Homo sapiens: one gene and its partner. The protein of the gene in region 2 interacts with the protein of the main gene of each other region in a biochemical or structural test. Each region holds a gene or a part of one and is shown on either strand. Other genes may lie near its edges.

The links. The genes of interacting proteins can lie anywhere in the genome.
Region 1: the proteins of LIN7A (region 2) and PDLIM7 interact in a test that uses a peptide from one of them, tested with the Homo sapiens proteins (one large-scale study listed by IntAct).

Annotation. Positions count from the first base shown.
Region 1 is NC_000005.10:177,485,250-177,487,604, forward strand, and holds part of PDLIM7 (PDZ and LIM domain protein 7), read right to left. Parts: intron 1-2,355. UniProt on the Homo sapiens protein: May function as a scaffold on which the coordinated assembly of proteins can occur. May play a role as an adapter that, via its PDZ domain, localizes LIM-binding proteins to actin filaments of both skeletal muscle and nonmuscle tissues.
Region 2 is NC_000012.12:80,847,435-80,850,934, forward strand, and holds part of LIN7A (protein lin-7 homolog A), read right to left. Parts: intron 889-3,500; coding exon 817-888; intron 742-816; exon of another isoform or gene 665-741; intron 1-664. UniProt on the Homo sapiens protein: Plays a role in establishing and maintaining the asymmetric distribution of channels and receptors at the plasma membrane of polarized cells.

The DNA of each region.
Region 1 (2,355 bases), on a different chromosome or scaffold from region 2:
CTTTGTGGGTGAGTCGACTGGCCTCCGCAGGAGGTGGGAAGGGGCAGAGGCACAAGGGGCTGAGCTCTCCCTGGGCTGGGCTGTTCATCCCTAGGACCCTCGGGGCCAGCCGGGGCCAGCCAGGGCCAGCAGTATTCACATCTGGAGCAGGCAGAGGGCAGCATGGGGCCTCGAGGCGGTATGAGGGTCCAAGATGTGTGGGTCTGGCCAGACCTTGACCTTCTCAAGTCTTGGTTTCTTCCCTTGTGAACTGGGAAGCTAATCCCAGCCTTGTGAGGCTGTTATGAGGATGGCCCTGAGTTTAAATCCAGGGATCCCAGATCCAATCCCTGCAAGGGCCAAGTGGGGACTGTGTCACACGGAGGAGGACCTCTTCTTCTGGGAGCAGTACTACTGGTTCATTCAGGAATGCCTGCCTGGCTCAGGCTGAAATCTAGGTGTTAAAGAGAAATCTGCTGGGCGCAGTGGCTCACGTCTGTAATCCCAGTGCTTTGGGAGGCCAAGGTGGGAGGATCGCTCGAGGCCAGGAGTTCGAGACCAGCCTGGGCAACATAGCAAAACCTCATCTCTACAAAAAGATTTAAAAATCTGCTGAGCATGCTGGTGGGCACCTCTAGTCCTAGCTATTTGGGAGGCTGAGGTGGGAGGATCCTCTGAGCCCAGGAGATCAAGGCTGCAGTGAGCAGTGATCATGCCACTGCACTCCAGCCTGGGCAACAGAGCAAGACCCTATCATTATACATAAAGAAATAAAAAGCAGGAGATCTCACTTTCCCTCTGCCTCCCAAGTAGCTGGGACCACAGGTGCATGCCACCACACTTGGCTAATTTTCTAATTTTTTTTTTTTTGTAGAAACAGGGGTCTTGCTATGGTGCCCATGCTGGTCTTGAACTCCTGGGCTCAAGCAATCCTCCCACCTTGGCCTCCCAAAGTGCTGGGATTACAGGCATGAGCCACTGCATCATGCAGGCAAATCTTCTGATTTTTTAAATTGTTTGCTACTGATTTTAAAATGAAACAGTGTGGGCCAAGCAAGACATAAGTGTGGGGGACATGTAGCCTTCGGATGGTGCATTTCTGCCCTCCACAACACCTGTACCCCATCTTACATCTACCTTGCAACCGTGCCGGCCCTAGCATAGTGCCACCCTTCTCTTCAGTGAGGCCCAGAGAGAGCAACTAGCCCCTGCTCACACAGCCAGTAGATCACAGAAATAGGTTTTCTGCCCATGTCTGGCTGGCTCTTCTCACTGTCTGGTGTTGCCTGTTTTAGAGGAGCAGACAAGGTCACAGTGAAGGAACTTGGGCTTTGAGCTGGTGGGAGAGGGGGCTCTACCAGGGGTGTGGGCTGGTAGGGCAGGAGCCCAAGGCTGGGAGGCAGATTTCTCTTTCTTTTTTTCTTTTTGAGACAAGAGTCTCGCTCTGTCGCCCAGGCTGGAGTGCAGTGGCGCGATCTCGGCTCACTGCAAGCTCTGCCTCCCAGGTTCACGCCATTCTCCTGCCTCAGCCTCCCGAGTAGCTGGGACTACTCCACCATGCCCGGCCAATTTTTTTGTATTTTTAGTAGAGATGGGGTTTCACCGTGTTAGCCAGGATGGTCTCAATCTCCTGACCTCGTGATCCGCCCATCTCGGCCTCCCAAAGTGCTGGGATTACAGGTGTGAGCCACCGTGCCTGGCCCTTTTTTTTTTTTTTTTTTTTTTTTTTTTTTTTTTTTGCTGTCTCCCAGGCTGGAAGGCAGTGGCACAATCTTGGCTCACTGCAACCTCCACCTCTCAAGATCAAGCGATTCTCCTGCCTCAGCCTCCCAAGTAGCTGGGACTACAGGTGCGCCAGCACACCCAGCTAATTTTTTTATTTTTAGTAGAGACAGGGTTTCACCATATTGGCCAGGCTGGTCTTGAACTCCTGACCTCAGGTGATCTGCCCACCTCGACCTCCCAAAGTGCTGGGATACAAGCATCAGCCACTGCATCGGCCACTCTCCCATTCTTGCCGACTGATGGAACCCCCAGTTTTGCTGGACACATGGGTGCCCAAAATAAAGACTATATTTCCCAGCCTCCGTTGCCACTGGGTGTGGTCATGTGACTGGGTTCTGACCAACAGGATGAAAGCAGAGGTTCAGGTGGCAGCATCCTCTAAGGATGGACGCCATGGGGCTCTGTCCCCTTTCTTCTCCTTCCGACTTCCTGCTGGCTGGAAGGTGAGCATTTTGGCGGAGGCTGAAGTGTCATCTTGCACCATGAGTGGTAAGTAAGCAGGTGCTGCCAACAGTCAAGCAACAAGGCGGAGCCTGGGTCCACCAGATCAGTCCCAGACCACCCACCCCGGGATGTTTTTAGATGAGAAAT
Region 2 (3,500 bases):
AATCAAGAGAGAAACTAAACAAGCGTTGATGTAACACAAAATAATTAAATGGAAAATTCTACTCATTTTCAATGGTTATTTCTTATACATTATTAGAAAAATAAAGTATTTTTAAAAGCAAGTCATGTTTCTATTATAACATTTGTGTGTTTGTAAAAGAAGAGCTGCATCAGTGATTTTAGTTTAAAATTGGTATTTCCTAATGGCCTATTTTCCTGATAATTTCCTGATGTTATCGGTATAACATTTCCATTAGTAGGGTCTCTACAGTCTCTGGATTTGAGTCTTTAAAGGGCAGATGTGGTCACTACCACAAAAGGTGACAGGCGTTTTCTATAAGGTCTATGCCACATCCTTTCAGCAAGTTACCCACTGCTCAGCTGAATACACAGAAGTATCCTAGATCAGTGGGTGTCAGGTGAATTCTTTTCCTGTCTATTTGAAATCAAATCTTTAGACCGGTGCAAATAAATCTTCATGCACTGAATATGATACAGGTTCTTTCAGATCAGAAGAATGTGTCTGAAAATCATATAGTATTTCACACAATGAACCAGTAGATTTGCTTGTGCCAAATGGACATTAAGTGAGTTTAATGAAATCATTCTCCTTTCTTAAGCTACAGAAGCAGCAGAAACGTTCAATTTTCCATTAGGATTTTTACCTGAGAAGTAGTACTGGTTCTAGACTCTGGGCTGCCACTGATGTCTAAATTCTCTTACAGTGTACACACGAGAATACCTGAAACACACACGCGCACAATCAATTACTAGATAACTGGGGTCAAGTATATTTTTAAAGTTACTCAAGCCTTACCTTTGCTGTTGCCCTCGCACGGAATTCGGGACAGCCATTAACAGTTATCGTTTCATGCATATATTGATACACCTAAAATGTTCACATAAAAAGAAGAATGTGTAAGAACATGAAGAATAATAATTCTTTTATTGCAGAAAGAAAATTATATTTTCACTGTAGGAAAAAAATTCTCTATTGCAAAATAACATAGGTCTGATGTTTGGGAATGTACCTGATAGCACTCCTTAAACAGCAGATATTATTACTCATTGTGATTTTAGATACAATTACAGAAATCATTAAAATGTAGTAGAAAAAAATTGTTTCTTATAAACTTCCAGGGATGGGATTATAAAATCTTTGTATCTATGGTAAAATAAATTGCTTAAACTAAAGTACAGAAAAAAAAAAACTTAAAGGATGCCTTGAGGAAGATGTTTGGAAAAAAGTAACAAGGTTAAATGTGTTGGACTATATGTTCATTTTGGATTTAAATAGTATACGTAAAAATTTATTGCATAATGCATAGCAATAAAAGTCCATTTGGTACTAGGCTAGAGTATTTTTGGGGAGTGATCCATTAGCTATTTCAGTAAAAAAGGAAAGGGAAAAACTGCAATCGAAGGTTGAAAGGTTTTTTTCTTCCTTTATATTAATCTTATTTTACATGCTTAACTCAAAAATTAAATAAGTGAATCCAACATTTGATTAATTCACCCATTCAACAACTATTTGTTGAGTGTCTGGGACTAATCTCTTCCCTGCATTTTTGACTGGCTCATAATTTCTCAAATACATTTGGTTGAATCTCCACTAACGCTGACTCATCTTTCCCAGGTGACATGGTTAGAAGGAAATTGACAAAGTAGTCTGTACTAAAAAGGCAACAGTGCAATTCAGAATCTAACTTTTAGCTCTGAATCTCCACTTAACAATTATGAGGTGTTCAATTTCTATGGGAAATCTGAATGGAGACAGGAACAAGTTTCCAGAAGATCATTTATGGAATCTGAGATATGTTACTGCAAATTCTCCAGGTTACCTGAACAGCTGCTAAACGTACTTCCAGATTATTTCCTTGGAAATGCATTATTTTGTTTCATAGAGACAGCCTTTCCAAAAATAAATTATACTATTTGCTCTAATAGCCCATTTCAGAGGAGGATTTTCCCTGCCCTGCTTCTCTTGTAATAAACTCTCTCAAATCTGACCCTTCATTCCACCCTAGCTCATTATCTCTTGCTGCAAGCATTGCATTAGTGACTTAATTGGGTCTCCCTGCCATCAAACCATATACACTTTGGTGATCATCAAGTACCTACCTGACCATGTCCCTGCTGTGCTCTTGGCTGTCTGCTGCCCTTACTGCAAAGGTGATAAGGGCAAATACCTACAGGAGTCAAGCCACAGATAATAATGCAGAACTCAGCCTTCTCTCTAGTTTTATTTTCCTGTTTTCTTTTCTCCACCCCCACCATTCCTCAAACATATTGAACTCTCCAAGTTACCTAGGTCTCTGCACATGCCGTTTACTCTGCTAGGAATGCCCTTCCACCTGGCAGACTCTTATTCATCCAAATTTAATATGATGATAAAAGGTCAAATTCAAATATTGTCTCCTCTATTAAATGTTTTCTGCCTCCCTCAAGCAGAGTGAGTCTCTCCACAGTTCCTGGTCATCTGAATTTGTTTGAAGTTATTTTGGTTAACATTGCCAGGGAAAGTGACTTTGCCTGCATCCAAGGATGTTTATGAAGACAATCATTTAGCAAATAATTGGAATATTGTCATCAATTGAATAAAACAAAAGGTGATTTTGTAAGTGCTGGAGATAAATACCTGTACCTAATAAATATCACAAATTAAGAATAATTAGCCTTAAGACCCCAAATTGATTTTGAATTAGAAAGTGGTATATTCAAGGAGCAATACTGTGTAGTAGATAATTTCACAGACTCTGAAGATGGCTTGGAAGCAAACCGTAGCTGTACCATTTAATTGTATGATGTTTGTCAGTCACTTGATTTCTCTGATCCTCAATTTCCTCATTTTAAAAATGTGCCTTAAAATAGTAAGTAACTTCTAGGTCTGTTATGAGGATTAAATAAGATAAGAACAATTTGCCATGTTTAGTATGTTTCCAAAAGTTAGCTATCATTGTTATGCTGTTGCTGGCATTTGATGTTTCTCATCTTATTTGACCATGGATCTTTTGGGGAAAATCTCCTAAGATGAGCAGTTCGTGAACACTGTTTACATAGAATTGATCAAGGGCTGTAGTTCTCAACTGGGGACAATGTTGCCCTTCAGGAGACATTTGGCAATGTCTGGAGGCATTTTTGGTTGTCATAAATGGGATGCTACTGCATCTAGCATGTGGTGGCCAAGGATGCTGCTAAATTCCTACAATGCACAGTGAAGCCTCACAGAACAAAGAATTATCTGCCAAAATGTCAATAGGGCTGAGATTGAGAAATCCTGATCTAAGGAATTAAGCTATACCTTTTCTTCGTACGTGCAATGATTGGTAAGCTGTAAAAACAGACTTGGATAGCACTGAGTAAAGGCTCTTGTAAAACATTCAATAAATATTTGTTGGAGTAAATTACCATAATTCTGGTATATATTTAATGAGAAATCACCATGGGCCAAATGTAATGCTAACCATTTTATATCCATGAGCTCGGTTAATTCTCCTAACT